Regions from separate parts of the Homo sapiens genome. Here region 1 is reported to be linked to region 2. The links are microRNA targets in miRTarBase. Many come from high-throughput screens and were not tested one by one. Region 2 holds a microRNA gene; the other region holds the end of a gene's coding sequence.
What was found. Region 2 holds the annotated microRNA hsa-miR-641 (AAAGACAUAGGAUAGAGUCACCUC, at 2,503-2,526, shown strand). A microRNA usually pairs through its seed, bases 2 to 8, with sites in the 3' UTR of a target mRNA and lowers its output. Matches are read on the target gene's strand: a 7mer-m8 pairs with bases 2 to 8, a 7mer-A1 pairs with bases 2 to 7 and ends in A, and an 8mer does both.

Region 1: the mRNA of ZNF106 is a reported target of hsa-miR-641. Seed matches in the 3' UTR shown: 7mer-m8 at 2,508-2,514, 7mer-m8 at 3,857-3,863 and 7mer-m8 at 3,998-4,004.

The regions. Positions count from the first base shown.
Region 1 is chr15:42,413,041-42,418,104 of GRCh38, reverse strand. It overlaps ZNF106 (zinc finger protein 106), which reads left to right. Exons shown (of 22, transcript NM_001366845.3): 21 at 154-300; 22 at 745-5,064. The coding sequence ends at 801. Among named protein-coding and RNA genes, the nearest start is that of CAPN3, 56 kb to the right of the region's middle.
Region 2 is chr19:40,280,055-40,285,128 of GRCh38, reverse strand. It overlaps MIR641 (microRNA 641), which reads left to right and starts at 2,488; the gene lies at 2,488-2,586. All of the region lies in intron 1 of AKT2 (AKT serine/threonine kinase 2), which reads left to right. RefSeq lists a silencer at 1-249 and enhancers at 620-759, 4,381-4,500, 4,541-4,590.

The DNA.
Region 1 (5,064 bases), not on the chromosome of region 2:
TTGGCTTTGTTGTCTTTTCTAGCCAAGAATAAATTTGAAATAAGGGGCTGGCTTTTTGCTTCCATAGTGCTTATGGGATCCAGCTGGGGGCTGTTCTGATTCACGTTCACTGCACCCTTTTTCACCGAGTCTCCTCATTTTCTTTCTCTCCAGTGGCATGGTTGCTCTCTGATATTTGGCGTTGTAGATCATTTAAAACAACACTTGCTGACCGACCACACTAATCCCAACTTCCAGACTCTGAAATGTCGCTGGAAGAACTGCGATGCTTTTTTCACTGCTAGGAAAGGATCCAAACAGGTACATTAGTGGGACTTGAGGTTTGCCTGGGATTCAGTAGACTGCTCAGAGCAGGGGCTAGCAAACCTTTTTTATTATTGAGAATTGCCATATATAGGGAGGGCCTAGGGTTTTTTATTTTTATGATTCAGAGATTTGGGGGGTAGCTTAATGAAGTTGCAAATGAAGAATTAGGTCATTTTTGAGAAAGGGCCTAAAGAGAATGTTTTCAGATGTTTCAAATCCAGTAACTGAACCTGGAGATTTATTACAGTGCTCTTGTGCTGAGACAACAGCTCACCTTTAAGTACATGGTTTCACGTAAGTTAGCAAAGTGCTGGCTCCTAACTGCCTTTCCTGTCTGGATCCTAGGTGGAATGGACCCACATGGCTTTCCTTGGCTTTGACTTTCTCCTGTCTTACTATCGACTTCTCTCTCATGGGCCCTTTTCCCTTCATTCCTAGGATGCTGCAGGACATATTGAACGACATGCTGAAGATGACAGCAAAATTGATTCATGAAGTTTTTTGCCTCCCACGTTGGGAAGTCATTAGTTGAACTATTTTCACATTGGCCCCCCACACAGGCCACTCTCTTCCCTTTCTTGGTGAAGTAAGGAAGGAGAAAGTGGTTACTAGCCAGGCATACCCCTAGCATAAGTCTGGGCAGCTCTATGGGATGATAAATTACACTTTTAAGTTCTTGCTGGAGGTTTTAAATAGATTTAGACAAATGTTAAGGAACCATACTTCTCTGGGACAGCATGGCATATAGTGATATATGCTATTTGCGTTCTCCAGATGTTTATTGAAGATACAGATCCTAATTGGTTACCCAGTTTGACCCTAATCATATGTATATTTTATTGATTTCAGTTTGCAATTTTTAATTTATGTTCTTATGATGGTTTAAACCTATAGTCAGGCTTTTAAGTACAAGTTTGTTTAAGTGCCAGACTTTGAGGATCAGTTTTAATTTCTCCATTTGTAATAGCTGGGTATTTAAACTGGAAGCAAATAGTTTTCTTTCTTAACAATTATGTGCAGTGTGTGTCACTGTTTTCTTGCTTTATAGATAGAGCTGGCTTTAAGTGCTAAAGGACACAGTAGATTTTTGACAAACAGTGGCTGCTCTGCTGACTATCTTTTAGGAATTCAGGAAGCAAATCACATAGTGACAAGTCCTTACAGACACCACTTCTAGTAAATCTCTGTAAATGTGGATAGAAAGCTCAGTGTGAGGCAGTGCGTAGACCTAACGTCTACCTTTACATCTGCTGTTGAACCTGGGCACTACCTGTTACAGATCCTGTCAGGCTGTTGAACTGGAGGTGTACCTTTATCTTCCTTTCTAGTGTCTGACCCTGCAAGCCTAATGTTGGTTTGAACCCTTTTGGTTTGTTCAGTTGCCAGCCTCCATCTCTCCCACTGTATGGCCGTGCCTAGACCGATGGCAGCCATCGAATATTCCTCTGGGCTCACGGGGTGTTTTCCACCCCCCTGCAGCAACTAAGATGGTGGGGGAGAGGGGGTTAGAATAAAGCATCTGAATACAGTTTTCAGGACCTCAAGCAGACTTCCTAGAGACTTGTTTCTGAGACAGTTCTTTGCCTTCACTTCCCTGCTAGCTGGGAAAGAAGAGTGGAGCAGAGACTCTGCCTGGCCACTGAGAACAGCCAAATTCACAAACCCTCAGTGGGGCTTTGTTTTTGGATTTTCTCCGGACTCATCAGTAAACCTGTAGAAGTGTCGCTTTCCAGCCTTTTGTTTCTGGATCCTCAAAACTCAGAACGTGGCCGGGCGTGGTGGCTCACGCCTGTAATCCCAGCACTTTGGGAGGCTGAGGCAGGCAGATCACCTGAGGCTAGGAGTTGCAGACCAGCCTGGCCAACATGGCAAAACCCCGTCTCTACTAAAAATACAAAAAGCCGGGCGTGGTGGGCGCCTGTAATCCCAGCTGCTCAGGAGGCTGAGGCAGGAGAATCGCTTGAACCCGGGAGGCAGAGATTGCAGTAAGCTGAGATCGTGCCACTGCACTCCAGCCTGGTGACAGAGTGAGACTCCGTCTCAAAAAAAAAAAAAAAAACTCAGCTTCTTCAGAGAGATAAAATTGGGGGAGGAGCCCAGGGCCACATACCAAGCTTTGGGACATGGTGCCTCATGCTCTCTGGGATTGCAGACCATCCAGGTCTGTCTTCGCCCCTGTTAGTGCACATATATCCACTCACATGTCTTCCCTCAGGCTATCGGGCAGGGGGACTTCACCAGGGGGTTTATGGATAGGCTTCAAGAGGGTCTGTGAGCCCCCAGAAATTGTGTGTGAGACTGAGTATGTGTTCTTTTTTCCAGGAAAGGCTCCAGTGGTTCTTACTTGATCCAAAAAATGTCAAGAATTAATCTAGGAGGCCGGGCCTGGTGGCTCACACCTGTAATCCCAGCTCTTTGGGAGGCCGAGGCGGGTGGATCACTCAAGGTCAGGCATTTGAGACCAGCCTGGCCAACATAGTGAAACCCCGTCTCTATTAAAAATACAAAAATTAGCTGGGTGTGGTGGTATGTGCCTGTAGTCTCAGCTACTCAGGAGGCTGAGACAGGAGAATCACTTGAACCCTGGAGGTAGAAGTTGCAGTGAGCCAAGATCATACTACTGCACTCCAGCCTGGGCGACAAGAGTGAAACTCCACCTCAAAAAAAAAAAAAAAAGAGTTAATCTAGGAGATAATGAATGGCCTAGTACTAGATAATATATGGCCCCACAAGCTCTTGACTTCTGTCCTTGGGGAAAGCCATTTTGTTAACCACACTAGTGAGATTTACATGATGCTTAATGGAGAACAGAGAAGATCTTGTTGCAAAAGGTGTATTAAATATTTGTGCTGTTTCTGTATGAGATTGAGAAGCTTTTCCCACCTCTCACCCCTATTTCCTATAAGGATATCCAGAGAAGCCAAACTGTTCTGTGGGTTTGGGAATGGTCATTTCCCGGGAAAATGCATCTGGATCGATGACTAAACCTGGCCCTTTTCTCTGGGCTGTAGTGAAGCCGCATTTTCACGCTGGCTGGCAGTGTGCTGAGAGCCTCGAATGCTCTGCGGCGTAGTGCCCTTCTGCCCTGCCTGACGATGTATCGAAAAGATGAGAGTGAAGGAGACTTTGTGCAGCAGGAAACGGGTAGGTGAGGTGTTGGGCAGTTGTGGGAACTTCTGAGAGTATTACAGAGTGGTAGAATCGGTAAGAACTCTGATTTGGACTTCGCTTTGGTGGAACTGTGTGCCTATACCTGCCTGTGTGTGTGCAAGTGTGCAGGTTCCTTTGTATGTATGTGTACGTGTGGGAACCTGTGTTTGTCATATTTTTCTTCATTTCACAAAGGCTTTTTTTGAAGCAGTGGCAGTATGCCTTTGTTTCAAGAACACATGAAATTCTTTTAACACCAGATTAGTGTGTTACCCCAAATGAACGGTTCTAGCCCTCTATTAAGAAATAAAGGGACCATAAGCATTTTGGCTGCTTATGGCTGTGTGTTACTACTTACAAGAGTCTTGAAAATTATACAGAACTTTGCCTTCTTTTTTTAATGTCTTCCACAATGTTGTGACTGATTATAACCCTGTTTCCCCTCAGAGAAGAGCTATGGCTCAGGGATCTGTGTTGACTCTGGCATTTAGTGGCTTTGTGAAGGAAAGAAACCATTAAATGACCTGACAAAAACTGACTCATGTCTTTAAAGTAGTTGAAGCCACTTTTAGAATGTTACTCTCGGTTGCTTTTGTCTAATTCTAATGGCTTAAAGCCAAGAAAACCATAGTATAAATCTTTTTGTGTACCTATGCTAGTGTTTAAATGGCAGTTCGTTGTGATAAAGTATCAGTCACTTCAAGTTTTCTGTGAAAGTTTTTAATTAGGTTAAAAATAATTTTGGCATACGTCTCTACTCAGTTTATAAAGCAGTTCCACACCATGCAAACAAAACTCTAACAGCAAAGGTTATCTTGACCTGATGTTACTTGAATCTGAGAGAAAGTCATTACTTACTACTGCACTCCTGCTTTTGTGGGAAAAATTTTCTTCTTCCCCAGAAGAGTTAACAGTTGAGTGTTCAGCTCCTGACTTACCTTTAATTTAGAGGCAATATTATTACTGTTTAAGTGATTATTTGCTTAACACAGGTTTTATTTTGTCTTTTTGCTGGTAGATTATACAAGGGACAACTTTAGTGATGAGGCATGTGGATGATTTGGTGGGAGTAGGTATATACTTAGTGGAATGGTTTATTTTATGGAAGAGAATTCATTGGAGGTGAGATTGAAGTATATTGTGAAGTGGGATTTGAACAGCACATATGCTCTGGTTTGCTCAAATAACTGCAGTTTATGCTTACATCTAAATTTTGTTTCTGTTACCTAAACGGGAGCTTCTAGAATTACGAAGGCCATACCTGCCACATTTATAAAATAATGGTTTTATCCCTGCCCCCAAATCATCAGGTTCCTCGGGTTTAAGAGAAGTGGTCTAATAGACAGGAATAGAAGTTGTGGTGGAGGTGATTTGGGATAGACTAGGTTTCCTTATGCAAGTGGATATGAGCTCCTCATAGAAACCAGACCTACTGTATTAGACAGTAACCTCTAACCTCACCTCCAAGCCCAAGTATATGGCCCTGCTGGGTTACCTGGTGACTACATTTCCCAGATTCACTCTAAATTCAAGGTAGTGACCCAAATAAATTGGGAAAGGAGGGGGTCAAGGAGGAAAAGCTGTTGAAAATCTTTCTCCTATTTAAGA
Region 2 (5,074 bases):
GGGCCCCCCGCGGTGCCGCGATGGGCTGTACCACCCGTGCCCGGCGGGGGGACCGCGGCCCTCGAGCCCCTCCTTCAGGAGCTGAGTGGGGGTGGCCGAGCGGGGGCGGTGGGACCAGCCTCGGGGGGCCGGGGCGGTGGCGGCGGGCCATACCACTGAGGCGGTGGGGGGAGCGCTGCAAGTTTGCGGGACGGGGAGCGCAGGCCGCAGCGTGCGCGGGCCGGGGGCTGGACCTTTCGGGCGCGGCGGGCAGATCGAGCCTGGCGTGCGCGGGCTAAGCTATCGAGGGGGCGCGCCGCATCAAGTGTAGAGGGCTGTACCTTTTTGGCGCTGTGGAAGCCGTTGCTGTGCTGTATTTACAGGGGTGGGGGCTTCTGGGGAGGATGCTTCCCCAACTGTGGCTGGGTTATATCACCACGGCGTTGGGGGAGCCCTGCTTAGAACGTAGGGGAACCCAAATCAGAGGACTGTGATGTTTGTGATCTTTAAGGGACTGGGACGGGGCGGGACAGGCCCTAGTGGGTTTTAGGGGCGTATTTTGGGAGGACTGTGATGCCGATTGGTGAGGAGGGGTTTCTGTTTCCTGTATTTGACGTGTGTGGCGTTGGGGGTTTACACTGATCTCAGCCTTTATTGAACTTCTTAACGACTCTGGAGGGAACGTCATGGTTACTGGGGTGCTTTGGACCATGGAGGTGCTGCTCTGGATTCCATTACCCTCTCAGATTATTTACCAGGCAGTAACAGTTCTTTCCTTCCATAGGGGAGGGAGGAAAGCTGTGTTAGAAGTCACTGAAGTTGTCTGAGCCTTAACATTCTGAAGAGGAAGAGGGATTGGGCTTGGATTTGAGGAGCCGTGCCCCTGCACCCGCTTGTTAAAACTTGGGAGGAAGGAGTGTTTGGGGGAACACCTCTTCCCCCCAGGGAAGCTCTCTGGGGGCATCTTGATCTTGGGATTGTGAGGACCTCTTCCTCTCATTTGGAGACCTCTTGGGGCTCAGCAAGACGCCTGGGCTGGAGTAACTAGAGCCTCCAATGGGCTGCTTTTCAACTTCATCCACTCCTACCTTCCCAGAGAAGCAGCAGGAGTTCACTCGTGGGCTGAACTTGGTTGGCAGTGGATGTGAAGGGTCCAGGAACCAACGCAGACCACTACATGCTCCTCTGTCGCTGGCCACGAAGCTGTTTGTGTCTCCCAGTTACCAGCTCGGTCACACATCATGTTTACACTCCCCACCAAGGCAGTAACAGTTGGCCTTGCAGTGAGGCCGGGAGCTGTTTTCCCAGCTGTTCCTCTTTGCATAGGCCAAGGGGACTTGGAGTGGGGGTGCCCCTGGCCCAGCCTGGCCCAGGGAGGAAGGCTGCTCTGAAGGGCTTGGGACAGTCAGATCCCCCATGGATCTGGTGTCTTATTGTGGTCTGTGGGCTGGTGCTGGGAGCAGCCAGCCCCAGAGGTCTGTGGCCAGTGTCCCTGCTCCCTAGGCCAGATCATGACCTTGGCTTGCCCTGTAGCCTTTGCTCTGGGTCTGGAGTTCCCAGAGGACTGGCTGCAGTCCCTGATTGACCCAGCAGACCTGGGCTGGTGATGTGGTCAGAGGGGGCAGATGGTTGCCCCTAGTCCGCAGCAGTGACTTCCAAGCTGACTGGCTTCCGTGGCTCGTGGTTCCTGGAGAGAAAGGTCCCACAGTCTGTGAGGCAGCGGCGACTCTGTAGAATCTTTCTCCACTAGGGGTTTGTTCCTCTGGTCCTCTCCTGCCAGCTTTTAGAGGGTTTGCCTGATGGGGCTAACAGTGGCAGTGAAAACAGTAATCATGAAATTGATGGCTGACAGTAACTGAGTGCATTCTGTGGGCCACACACTGTTTGGAATGCTTCATATAGATAAACTTGCTGAATACTTGAATTCTAGAGCGGTAGGCGCTGTTGTTATGCTCTCCCTTTTAGATGAGAAAACAGCATCTCAGAGAGGCAGATCATTTCCAGAGCTAGTGGATGCCCAGTGTTTATAGCATTCACCCCATGCCAGGCGTGTGACAGGGCTTTTGTACATGTGATCTCACTTAAGTCTCAAAACATACCTGTGGTTAGGCCTATTTTATGGAGAGCTACGAGCTAGTTAGAAGTGTGATACCATTTTACAGATGAGGAATCATTTCACTCACTGTGAAGTGCAAAGATTTCCCAGAGGTCTCATAGCTGAAGTGGGAGAGGTGTGATGTGAGCCCTTGGCCAACCTTGGCCTCAGATCGTCTTGTCAAGGAGAAACTGGAGGAGTGGCTTTTGTCTGTGAGCATATACTCTGCCCAGCCCTGTGCTTTGGGCTTTATATGGTATTTGTGTCCTTTTTTGCAGAGTCCGAAATTGAAGTTCAGAGGAAGAATTGCCTTCCACCGCATCTTATCAGACCCTATGGGTGCCAGGGTAGGATTTGAACCCAGGTCACTGAGCCCCTAGTGCCATGCATTCCTTGCTCACCAGGTTCCAGGCTGGGTGAAAGGAAGGAAAGACATAGGATAGAGTCACCTCTGTCCTCTGTCCTCTACCTATAGAGGTGACTGTCCTATGTCTTTCCTTCCTCTTACCCCTGAGCCTCAGGCTGCCCTGAGCATCTCTGCCTACAGCCAGTCCAGCATTTCTTGGTCCCTCCTCAGAGTGGAGGCAAGGCATCCTTTAACCCTGGGCAGGTGTGTGCTGGGAGAAGAAGACAGCAAGAGAGCCATGCAGGGGGTGACACAGCTACCAGGGACCTGCGTTAGCTAGCAGCAGGACGGTGAAGTCGGTTCTAGCTCTGCGACCTTGGACCACACTGTTCACTCCCATACAGTGGTCTCAGAAGGACGTCCACCTTGGGCTGTTGTGAGGATTAAATGAATTAATCCACGAGAAGCTCCTAGAATGGTGCCTGGTACTGTGTAAGTCTTGGTTGGCAGTCATGATTATGTTATGGAACGGAGGCATCCAGCCTCCCCCACCCCCTACTTTTGGTCCCCTCGAGCATTCCGGGATCCAGCTCCCCAGCCTGGCCCAGCTAGGATCCAGAACTTCAATGTTCTGGTTTCCAGCCTCTGTAAAGAGGTGTATGGAAGCGAGTGAGAGCACAGGGTTCAAATCCAGCCGTGCCACTCCATGGCTGTGTGACCTTGAGCAGGCTCCCCAACCCTTGTGAGCTCATTTCATCATCGGTGCCATGGGGATGATGATAATTCCCACCTGATAGGATTATTGTGAAGGCTGAGTGGATTAATTTGTGGGAAGCATTCATAACTGTTCTGGCATACAATAAGCCTACCGGAAATGTCTCCTCACTAAGAACAGTGCCCGACACATGGTGAGCTGTTGGTCTGTCTTAGCAATTGTAATTCTTAGTATTTCTGCCGGGACTTTGAAGGCCTTTGCCAGTTCACAGAACCGTGTCAGAGAGCACTAGGAGGAGATCAGGGCTGAAATTAGCATCTCAGTTTTACAGATGCAGAAACAGAGGTCGGGGGAGACATGCAATCAAGTCAGAACTGACAAGGGCAGCTCCCGGGCCCACTCCTCTTCCACGCAGTGGCTTTGCAGCCCTGAGCGCCTCCAAGGTAGACACACTGGAGTCTTTTCAGAGGTCAGGCTCTGTGCTTGTTTTTTTTTTTCTTTTGAGACAGGGCCTCCCTCTGTCACCCAGGCTGGAGTGCAGTGGTGTGATCACAGCTCACTGCAGGCTTGACCTCCTAGGCTTTAGTGATCCTTCCACCTCATCCTCTTGAGTAGCTGGGACTACAGGTGCATGCCACCATGCCTAGCTAATTTTTAAATTTTTTGTGGAAACGGGAGTCTCGCTATGTTGCTCAGGCTAGTCTTGAACTCCTGGGCTCAAGTGATCCTCCTGCCTCAGTCTCCTGAGTAGCTGGGACCGTAGGTGCATGCCACTGCCCCTGGTTCCCAGCCCACCACAGCTCACAGCTCTGGGAGTGGCAGGAAGGCTGGGCCTGGGCAGGGGGAGCAGCAGAAGTGCCTGCAGGGGTTGGCAGGGGCTGTGCTGCACTGGCCTGTGGGCCTGGGTGAGAGGTGAGGATGGATCCTAAGGGTATTGTGGAGCCGAGGAAAAGGTTTCACTCATCCGCCACCATTTACTGAACACCTCGTATGTGCCAGCGTTGCATCAGTACTGGGAATACAGCAGTGTACTTGCCAAAGTCCCTATCCTTGTGGGGCTAAGCAAGACCAACCCGAAACAGGTTAATAAGCAAGGAGCCGGTTAGAGGGGGAGGAGCTAGGCAGCGAATTCAAATCAGGTGACAGACTGGGCACTTCTTTAGATGCATGCGGCTGTGGGGAGGGCCTCTGAGCTGATCCCAGTTTGGCAAGGTGAGGCAGTCATGTGGGATGGGAGGAGAAGGAACAGCCCTCCAGGTGGAGGGAACCACAGTGCAAAGGTCTGAAGGGAGGACAGAGCTTGGTGAGGTGCAGGGACAAGCCTCACGGAGGCCTGTGTGGCTTGGCAGAGCGAGGGAGCAGGGAGGAGATGAGTCCTGGGGCTGCGGGGCAGGCAGGGCCCTTTCACTGGGAGCCTTGTGGACTGTCTGTGAAGGAGTTTGGAATTTCAGCAGGAACAGCCTGGTCAGATTCAGGGTGTTAGCAGGTGACCCAGGAGCCGGTCACAGGCTCCTGCCTGGGGGCGTGGGTAGATTTGACTGAGCGGAGCAGGGCGTTTCACAGGCCTCCCACTTCCCCTCCAGTAGCATCACTGCCTTACAGCCAGCAAAGGCCTGAGGGTTGCCTCCCTCCTGTGGTTTTCACACCGTGTTCTCCAGAGCCCGTGGCTGTTACTTTTAGGGAAAGAGGAGGGGAGGCTCATTGGGCTGATTTCTCTGCCCATTCCTCCCCAACCCAACCAGCCGGACTAATACTGAATAGCAACGCAGGGCAGCAGTCACACCTGATACAGACAGCACCCGCTGACCCTGCGTCCACGCTGCCGTGGGCCTGTAGGCCTGCGCCATTCCCAGTGCTCCTCTGGAATTGGAAAGACCAGGGCTTGTGACTGGCGCCCAGCACCCAGGTCTCTGGTTGGGCTCAGGTGTGGTTGATATTA